Regions from separate parts of the Homo sapiens genome. Here region 2 is linked to region 1. Evidence: fine-mapped expression QTL. A gene starts in region 1. The other region holds a variant in brackets. All regions are shown on one strand. Distances are between the middles of the regions.

Region 1 (5,000 bases):
CTGGAACCCAGGCAGCCTGGCCCCAGCGCCTGGGATCTGAGTGGCTCCACTGCACCCCCATCCCCCGCCTCCAACTGCCCCAGGTCCACGGAAACCCCTTGTGGCCAACAAGACATTGGCCACTGTTGGGAAAATATGATTAAAGACAAAAGCTTCTCCCAGCACAGAAAACCTCATCACAAAGAAAATTTAAAAAAGGTTTATTATTGAATAAGCATTAAACCAAGATATGAGGTGCATTACAGGTAACCCACTGAGAGATTGCAAAGACAGTAAGAAGTTTCACCCTTTTATATGGCCAGGCAGGCACAATCCATGCACACATCCTCTCTCATCCCTGCGGAAAAGGACTCGATAGCGTCATTGTTTCACATGGTTCATCCTAAACTCACCTGACAACGAGGGCAACCCTCTGTGTTCATTAATTTGTTTTATACAAAGGAAAAAAAAGCTTCTCCTGCACCTGGGTTCCACCCTTCTGTCACTTACTGTGACAGGTTTTGCATCTCGGAGCCAGGCGCCTGCCCAATTCGGCTCCTTCCTCCCACTGAACACTAGGGGCGCTGTTTTCCTTCGAATTTACATCTCAAAGAGGCGGTGCCCAGGTCCTTCAGGGAAACATTCCTGAGTCGTAATGCTGGAAAAGGCTTATTTCGCTGTAAAAAGGATTTACACATATTTCAAAGAGACAAAGAAAGAACTTACACATTTTCTAAAGTAGATGCTTTAAGAAAAGGGAGGGAGGACGTCTCTTATTTTTAACAGGGAGACGGAAGCCTCTCATTTTCTATTTGTCTTGGTCCTGACGCCTCTTTGCACCAGGCCTGGCCTGTGGCGCTGCCTCCTCCTACAGGTGCAGCTGCCTCCATCTCGCTCCTGCAAACCCCAGAGTGCTCGATCCTCAAAATGACATTTGACCAGGCACCTCCCTTCTCCCAGGGGCCCACAGAAACGCCGGAGTCCTTGAGTGCCTGAGAGAAGATGGCACCCAGCCTCCTCTGTCCTCACTCCTCACTTCCTCCTTCTGTGTGTCCACGGGGCCAGCTTTGTCTGGTCCTCCTGTTCCCTTCACTTGTCCTGCCTGTCTGTGCGGGTCTGTGGCCTGAGGATGCTCCCCACCTGGGGGAGTCTCCTCCCCACCTCTCTCTGCTGTAATTCCCCATTCCTCCTACGATCTCTTCAGCCTCATGCTCGCTCCCCCTCCTCAGGGTGCCCAAAGGATGCGTTTGCTCCTTTTCTGGGGTCTTGTTGCTCACCTATTACTGTATCTCCTGTGTCAGAACACACACACTCCAGTTTGGGAGTCAGATCCATATTTGAATCCTGATTCTGCTACTTCCCATCCCACCTGTGGGACCCGGATAAGCTCCTTCACCTTCCAGAGCCTCCGTCTGACCATCTGTATAATGGTCATGTTAACGCCCACCTCATAAGGTCACCGGGAGAATTGGACTAGGTAAGGCATGAGAGGCCCCTGCCCTGGATGCAGACGGCACCCAGGGCAGCATAAATTTCCCATCCTCTTCCCCTAGCAAACTCTAGGTCCTTGAAAAATATGTGCTGTGCTCAAAGAGGAGGTGTGGAACCTTATTCATTATGTGGTAAAAAGATAAGCTTCATTGACTACTGGGAGTCTGTAACATCTGATGGCCTTACCTGGAGGTCTTATTTTTCCTCTCTGTGTTCATCACTAGGCATTTCATCTCAAGTGATTTTTCTGCAACTTTTTCTTGCTTTGCGTGAGTTCTGGCATGCTGACTTGTAAAACGAGAGGCTTTCATTCATATTGTATGACGCTTGTGCAGATGAAACCCAAGTCACCCACTCATGAATAATCCACCTGTTCTTGCCCTTCTCAAAGGATATTTTCCTGAACAATCTGAAGTCACAAACACCACCTTGAAATCTCCGGGAAGTCAATGTTGCAAACTCACTTAATTTTATTATTAAGTCTTGCCCCATGAAATATTTCTGAGATGGAGCCAACAGCCAAGGGACGGACTGAGGAGAGTTTCAGCTACGTCATCAGAGCCCCCAGCAGTGAGGGGTTCGACATAATGAACGTTGATGTGAAGATTGACACATCCTGGATATTCCAGGACATGGAAGATAGTGCTGAGGAGCGGGAATGTCTTCAGGAAGAAGCAGCTGGCCGCCCAGACATGGATATGGGTGCGCTCAGGAGGCAGCTGGAGTCCTCCGAGCAGAAGCTGTCAGCAGCAGAGGACAAGTACGTGACATCGGAGTCCGGGCTGAGAAGCAGGTAGCGATGCCATTTTGATCTCTCTGTGTGTATTTCACAAACCGCGGGGCCATCAGAGTGTGTCACCATGGTGTGTTGAATCACACCACACAGCTGGGGAAACTGGCTCACCAAAGACACGTAACCTGCCCACGCAGTCACTTGCCTTCTGCTCCTCCCGCCCTCCTTCTTCTGCTCTGTACCTGCAGATGAGGCTGCCCGGGCTCCTCTGCTCAAAGGCTTCCATTTAGGTGCAGCCAATGGGAGGCCCTGAAACGGAGGGAGGCAGGGAGAAGCCAGGTGTTCTCCCTCTCTTCTTCTCTGGGTGACTGTTCCATGAAAGGGCCCTATGTTCAAAGTGACAGGGAAGTGTAGAAGGAACTGAGAAACCAAGGACAGAGGCAGACAAATCCAGTTGGTCGGTTTGGGGTGATTTTTTTAGGGGAACTGGCAGACAGAAGCATGGTTTTAGGCAGCCGCCAGACAAGTAGATGTCCACACAGCAAACCTTCCATCCCCAACCCAGGGCTTATATCCTGGGGAAAAAGCATGTGTGCTCTGGAAGGCTTGCATAGGTGGCTACAGGCATCACAGCCTATGGTTTCTGCAATGACAAGGGTTGTTTTGGAGGAAACTCACAATGAATAGGTGTTTCTACGTAAACAGAACTATATCAACTCCACATCTTGGAGGCATTCGTGGACTCAGGGTTAGTCAAGAGTCACCTGCTGGATTAGCGTTTAAAATAAAGTCACTCTTGTTCCCACAGTGACATCTCCCACTGTGGCTGTAACTCAGATGTGCTCTCGGCTTCCTCTGCGGTCCCAGCTCCCGCTGGGTGGCCTGGCTGCTCTGCCCTGCCCTGGTAACATCGTCTCTTCCCTGTGTGGCTGTCCAGCCCCAGGGGCAGAAGTGGCTTCCGGCAGTTGCTAATCCAGGCTGCCTGTCTCTGTCTGGCCTTTGGACTCTGCTGTCATCTTTGAAATAGGTTCTCCGCATTCGTTTCTCTCTGTAGAACTTCCTGCTGTGGGCACTGTTTGCCTGATGGAGCTGACCTGGCCTCAAGGTGGGGCGTTTGAATCCAGGTCTTTCTCTAAAGCCCATCTTCTTTCCTGACGATGTCTTGACACCCAGACTGGCAGAACGAGGTTGGGCCTTGTATATAGATCAGCGAAACCCAGCATGGAAGCACAATGCAGTGACAGCGGGGATTGATTCTGACACGTTACTCATATCCCAGCAGCCACGTGCCTTGGATTTTTGCGGGACTTCCCCATTTTCTTGTACTTGCCTTTGATTTAGTAAAGGCAGACCATTGAACGTGTATGCACATGTGATTTACTTTTCTTCCTTTTGGTAAAGTTTTATGCATGAAGAAATTCACAAATCAGAAAAATTCTTCTGTTACTCTATGTGATTGCCCATTCTTTCATTCATTCTGCAACGCACTTACCCTCCGAGAGTCATATACAAAGTTATGTTAGTTTGCCTGGGTTGCCATGACAAAGCACAGTAAGTCCTCACTGAACGTTGTCTATAGGCCCTTGGAAACTGTGACTAAGTGAAGCAACCTACAACAAAACCAATTTGTTTTTGTTTTTTATTTTGCTTTGTTTTGAGATGGAGTCTTACTCTGTCACCCAGGCTGGAGTGAAGTGACATAATCTTGGCTCACTGCAAACCCCACCTCCTGGGTTTAAGCGATTCTCCTGCCTCAGCCTCCCGAGTAGCTGGGACTATAGGCGCCCATCACCACGCCTAGCTAGTTTTTGTATTTTTAGTAGAGACAGTGTTTCACCATGTTGGCCATGCAGGTCTCGAACGTCTGACCTCAAGCGATCTGCCTGCCTTGGCCTCCCAAAGTGTTGGGATTATAGACGTGAGCCACCACACCTGGCCACAAAACTAATTTGACCATAGGCTAATTGATACAAATAAGAGTTAAGTTCCTACAGCATATTTCAGGTCACAAAAACATCACCAAACTTTGAGATAAAGACCCCAAACACTTCTAATGTTAAACATTGAAATAAATGTGAAAGGCTCAAACAAATTTAGATTTAAGAAAGACTCAAAAAAACACAAGTAAGATGATTATTTACCCAATTGTTCCAGTTCAGGGTCACAGGTGGCTGAGGCCTCTCCCGGCAGCTCAGGGTGCAAGGCCTGAACAGGACACTCACACCCACGCGCACACTCACGCAGGCTGGGACTATGTCGACATGTCAAGGATGGTGACATGGGGATATGGACCCAGATTCGCCGGCTGGTCTCTAAGACCAATCACAAGTATCCTTGCGAGAGGGAGACAGAGAGGGTTGAGTCTAGGGATGGCAGTGTGGCCGCCAGTGTGGGATTGCATGCAGCTGGCTCCAAAGATGAAGGCAGGGCCAGGAGCCCAGGAATGCAGCTCTAGACCTGGAGAAGACCAGGAATTGGATTTCCCCTTCAGCCTCGGAGAGGGCTTGGCTCCACTGACAGCTCGACTAGCTCAGGAAGACTGATTCCGACTTCTGGCCGCCAAGCTTGTGGTGACGTGTTACAGCTGCAGGAGGAGACCAGGGTACCCCGAGAAAGCCCACACAGACATGGGGAGAATGGGCAAACTCCACATAGACAGTGGCCCTGGCTGGGAATCTTTTTTTTTCTCATCAACATTATAATGAAATGGCATTATTTGCAGACCTGGGTGACTTAACAAAAACTTATTTTCTCACATTTCTGGATCCCAAAAGCCCAAGCTCGGGGGGTCGGCAGG
Region 2 (5,518 bases), 45 kb after region 1:
CCAGCTGTTCTGAGCCCAGCTTGCCTGGGGAAGCTCTGGACAGTGGTAAGTGACAGTGCAGTGTTGTCAAAAATGTCGCTTTTATTTCAGCTTGAAGAACTTCAGAAAAAGCAACATGAAGCAAAGTTGGCAGTGACTCCCCTGAAGGTAATATGTTCATAAAATCAACATGAAATGCCTCTTTCAAAACAAAAGAGAGTTTAGTAGTTTTCCTGTTAGACATGTAATCCACCTCTATTGTATAAAAGTCTGGGTAGGGCCAGGCACGGTGGCTCACACCTGTAATCCCAGCACTTTGGGAGGCTGAGGCGGGTGGATTGCTTGAGCTCAGGAGTTTGAGACCGGCCTGGGCAACATGGCCAAATCCCATACAGGCGTGATGGCATGCGTCTATAGTCCCAGTTACTTGGGAGGGCTGAGGGGGGAAGATTGCTTGAACCCAGGAGGTCAAGGCTGCAGTGAGCCGAGATCACGTCACTGCTCTCCAGCTTGGGCAACAGAGTGAGACCCTGACTCAAAACAAAACAAAACAAAACAAAACAAAACAAAAAAACCGCAAAGAAGAATGAAGGAGACAGAAAGCAGCAGCCCCTGCTTGCACATGGCATTTCCATGTCTTTTCCTCCAGTACGTTTCCCATGTGTTTGAGAGCCTACGATGCGTATACGTTTGCCTCCTGCTGTTCCCACTCGATGGGGTGACCTAGGAGGTGGGTCCCAGCCTTTGAGGCTGCACTTTTCATGCTGGGGTGAAGCACGAGAGGCCTTGGTCCATAAAATCACCACCCCTGCGCTCTGTGCTCAAGCCCCTTCCTTTCTATCACTCTCTCTTTTGTATCATTAATTGTGTGCAAACACTGTGATGTAGTTTTTTTTTTTTTTTTTTTTTTTTTTTTTTTTTTTTTTTGAGATGGAGTGTCACTCTGTCGCCCAGGCTGGAGTGCAATGGTACGATTTTGGCTCACTGCAACCTCTGCCTCCCAGGTTCAAGTGATTCTCCTGTCTCAGCCTCCCAAGTAGCTGGGATTACAGGCATGTGCCACCACACTTGGCTAATTTTTGTATTTTTAGTAGAGACAGGGTTTCACCATGTTGGCCAGGGTGGTCTCGAACTCCTGACCTCAGGTGATCCACCCCCTCTTGGCCTCCCAAAGTGCTGGGATTACAGGCATGAGCCACCGTACCCGGCCAATGTACAGGTTTTCTCAGAAAGGTTTTCTCCACGTATCTAGACATTTATGTTTAAGATCAATTCCCAGAAATGTCATTACTCACCCATGGGGTTTAATATATTCTTTGCTAGCAGGACACAGAATTTGGTCAAGGTAACACATTTCATCTTGAACATGGGCCTGGATCTGAGGAGAAGCTGGGGGCTCTGCTCTTTCTCTCTGGCCTCAGGGCAGAGTGGAGAGGGAGGTGCCCTGGGCTGGGCATCAGCAGAACCTGGTTATGCCCTGGACTCCCGCTGACCTGCAGAGTCATCCTCCCTCTGGGGCCTCAGTGTCGTCAGCCGTCAAATCAGAAACATGAGCCAGACAGTTCCTAAAGTTATTTTCCACCCCACATTTCCGTGTCTGTCTGAGCCTCGAGTTGGCGCCCGTAAAATAAAAATCGTCATAATTCCTGCCGCGCCCCTGCAGACGTGGTAGCTGGAAAGGTGCAGAGCGGACGGTGAGGCTCCGGCAGTGTGAGGCTTCCCTCCCCACCGCTCTCATCACCATCATTTGCTGTGGAGCATTTCTTTAAATGGAGGCCATAATCCCTTATAAAGTGCTATCGAAATGTGAGATAAGGATAGAAACATGACACTCGGTAGGTGCCTGCCTGCGCCGTCTCCTTTTATCCTGGTGTCCATGACAAAGCCCATTGTACAGATGGGCAAGTCGAGGTGCAGAGGGGAGCTTGCTCACAGAGCTGGTCCGTGGTGGGGCCCAAATCCACGCTCTTGACCCCTGCTGCCTTGAGCCTAGACCCCATGGAAAGGGCAGTGCGGAGCCCCTGGGGGTGTGTGGCCGTCTGCTCCGAAAGCAGCCTGGCTTCTGGGGGCAGGGAGGCTTCGCAGGGAGGAGGCTGCTCCGCTGAGCTGAGGCAGGGCTGGGGATGGTGAGTAGGGGCCTCAGCTGACCCTCCGGCCCCCAGCCCTCCAGCTCAGCCATGCAGCCCTGGTGGGAGCTCTGCATCCATGGCCTCCCTCCCTTTCAGGCCAAGATAGCTTCCCTCGTCCGGAAGTGCCGGGAGAGGAACCGCCTGATCACCCACCTGCTGCAGGAGCTGCACAGACATGGGCTGGGGAACCTCCTGCTCTCCGAGCTGGCGCAGAACATGCTCAACGACGTGGCACTGGCTGAGTACACGGCCACCTTCCTGGCTCCGGGAGTCCCAGAG[G/A]TAGAGTCCCAGAGATGGCCCTGTCTGTGCTTCCTATGGGAGTGTGGGCGCGTCCCTTGCATGCCCCTGCCTGACTGGAGCAGCCCCTCCTTTCCTCCCTCCCTCCCACCGCGGACACTACCCAAGAAGACACCCCCTGGCTTTTCCTCTGTGCCCATGCCCATGCCCTGGGTGGGCATGGGAAGATGCATCTGGCAATCCTTACCCTTTATGGTGCTCAGGAAATGGTGCAAGGCACAGACGTAAACAGTGATTGTAATTCAGCGTCATACAAGCTTCATTGGGTGTGTGTCACAGGATGGGTCTTTTGTGCCGGGACCTGTGCACTGGCCACTTCCTCTAGCAGGCTGCTTTGGTCACCCCATGACCTCCTGTCCATCCTTCAAGGTAGAGGTGTGACCTTGCCCAGGCAGCCTGCTCTGAGCCCCGCAGACCAGAGAGTTAGCCACAGCTTCCTCTGTGCTCCATTGCACGTGGCCCCGCGTGACGGGGCATGAGCAGGGAGCTCTCCTGGCTGTTGCAGGAGTTTGTGGGCCCATCTCCGATGGGCCCAGAGCCGCTCCATAGCCATCTTTGTCTTCCCAGTGCCTGGCTCTGAGAATCTGCCACAAACCTGGAAGAATGTTGGTTGAATGAATGAAATAATGAACCAAATGAATGAGAATCTCCTCTCCCAGTGGTCAACAGAAGAGGAAGCTGAGGCCAGAGAGGTTAGGAGATGTGCTCCGGGTCACACAGGCAGTGCACACAGGGACAAATGCCAGCTCTCCTGACTACAGTCAGCACCCACGGGTGCCCAGCCGTGCCTGCCCACACATATACATGCAGCCCCGTTCCTGGGGACAAGCCAGCAACGCCCCCGCCAGACTAGCTCCGCTCCTTATGTGCGCGGGTGAGACCAGCTCCCACGGTAAACACAGCCGGGGCTGTTTTCCATGGTCCCTCCAGGCTCTGCCTGTGGGGCTTGCTCTCAGCCCCTTGGCACCAGGTCTGAGTCTCTCTCTGCAGCTCTGCCCAGCCTGGTCTCTGCAAGGCCAACCTCCTCTGACCCTTCCTTTTCCTCACAGCCTTGAGAGGTCCCCTCTGGTCCAAATCATTGCACAGCAGAGATGGAGGCTTGGAGGCCAAGAGGCATGTTCAGGGCCATTTTTTGACTCAATTCATAGGCAGAACTTGAATCCAGAGCCCCAGACTCCCAGTCTGTTGCTCTTCTCTTTGCCCAAGGGGTACAAGACTCCTTCAGAACTAGAATAAGGGTGAGAAAAGAGAGCAGAATTTTGTCCAAGTGCCTGCATAGTCCTTGGGATCCACTAGGGGCCTGATATCTGGGGGTTAAGTGAGATAAAATTGAAAGCAGGCCGGGCGCGGTGGCTCGTGCCTGTAATCCCAGCACTTTGGGAGGCCGGGGCGGACAGATCACAAGGTCAAGAGATCGAGACCATGCTGGCCAACATGGTGAAACCCCGTCTCTACTAAAAATACAAAAATTAGCTAGGCGTGGTGGCATGTGTCTGTAGTCCCAGCTACTCAGGAGGCTGAGGCAGGAGAATCTCTTGAACCCGGGAAGTGGAGGTTGCAGTGAGCCGAGATCACACCACTGCACTCCAGCCTGGTGACAGAGCAAGACTGTGTCAAAAAAAAAAAAAAAAATCGAAAGCAGAGTTCCAGGTTGTGAAAGTATCAAATTGCAAATGCAGCAGGTGTCACCCTGGAAGGCCGGCTGGCTGGCTGCTGTGGGGACATCATAGCAGCAGCCCACCTTCCAAGGGCTGCTCCTCACTCTCACAGGCCCTGGAACTAGAATTGAAATGTTCACTGGGGTTGGATCGGCTGACTTACAATGACCAAACTTACAGAGAATGATGTATACACTGGACTATTAATTTTTAAATATCCTATGAGAAAGAGAACTATTACACAGGTTGAAGTATCTGATGAATGGATGAAAAATTGTCAGCGTATTCTCTCCCTATAGTTGAGTTATCTGGAAAATCAAATTTTTTCAGTCATTTCTTCATCTGTCACTTGAGAGCCCAGAACGAGAGCAGGGAAAGTTATTTTAATAATGTCATCGGACGGATTCATTCATTTCCTATAAGGATGTGCTTCTGGGCCTGGACACGCTTCCGTGGACCAGGATGTCCCTGCCAGGCCTTTTGAAAGTGAAAAAAAAAAATTGTGATGTGTTTCAGAAATTCAGAGAGCTCCAGGCTGGCTGCAGTGTGGTCCCCAGGGGAGGAGTCGGGGGAGGCTGGGCTGATGGGAGGCCACAGGCACCTGTGCCCCGGCAGGGTGTCTGCATCTTGATTCCTAGTGGACAGCAGGGTGGGCGTGGCGCTGGCCACTCCTCCTACTGGTAGCCAGGCAGGAAGCGGGTCCAGTGCTGCTTGCTTGATGGGCAGTCAATTCAGAGGACACAGATGGAATTCCCGATGGGGGCCTTTGGGCTCTGGCTAGGAGCCCAGGAGGACTGCCAGGATGGCTGGGGAGACTCTGATGGGCTGGAGGTGAGAAGTGCCAGAGCAGCAAGGGACAGGTCCTGGGAACTTCAGCCAGGCGGTGGAGGGCTGATGTACCTTCCAGGAATACCCCTGGAGGGCCCTGGGCTCCTGTTGCTCACAGTGTCCTGAGACGCTCCCATTCTCTGGCCCCTGCCTTTGGGTAGGGGGCGTGGGCTGGCTAGGGTCCCAACTGGACAGGCTGCCTTCATTTATCCAGCCAAGTCATGGTGGCCAAGACTCATGCTGCCCTCCCCCTCGCACGCTCTCCATGGATCTGCTTACTCCACCCTCCCAGCATCCTGCTGCTAGGCTCCACGGGGGACCCTGAGCCTCAGCATGTCCCAGGGCTGTTGAGGGGGTGGGGGCTGGGCCTTGGGCTGAGGCCACTAAGCTCTACCCTTTCAGGAGGAGGTGGCGTGGCCTGGTGCCCATGCAAGCAGCAGTCGGTGACCACCTCCCCTCCCTGCACGTGACTGAGTCTTTGTATTTCCATTTTCTTTTCTTGTCCTGGTTTGGGTGCGTGGTGGAAATTGAGCCTCAGAGTCGGTTTGGCCCCAGTGCCCTTTCTGCAGGCATGTGGTGTTGGGCTGGGGGCCACGGGTCCCAGCACCGCTGTCTGTGCTGGCATCT

Alleles and levels. Alleles are on the strand shown, and positions count from the first base shown. SD is a standard deviation of normalised expression in the study named.
For the expression in prefrontal cortex of the gene that starts at base 1,977 in region 1, allele A in region 2 goes with a higher level than allele G (moderate effect, 0.72 SD a copy in ROSMAP).

What was found. PIP is the estimated chance that this variant, and not a neighbour inherited with it, causes the effect.
Region 2: its variant is the best candidate, but not a certain one, in a credible set for the expression of C4orf50 in prefrontal cortex (ROSMAP, PIP 0.53).

The regions. Positions count from the first base shown.
Region 1 is chr4:6,015,408-6,020,407 of GRCh38, reverse strand. It overlaps C4orf50 (chromosome 4 open reading frame 50), which reads left to right and starts at 1,977. Exons shown (of 12, transcript NM_001364689.3): 1 at 1,977-2,263. The coding sequence starts at 1,977.
Region 2 is chr4:5,970,528-5,976,045 of GRCh38, reverse strand. It overlaps C4orf50 (chromosome 4 open reading frame 50), which reads left to right. Exons shown (of 12, transcript NM_001364689.3): 8 at 91-147; 9 at 2,205-2,387. Among named protein-coding and RNA genes, the nearest start is that of C4orf50, 45 kb to the left of the region's middle. RefSeq lists enhancers at 1,504-2,064, 2,065-2,626, 4,248-5,058. The variant G/A (reference allele first, on the strand shown) is at 2,388.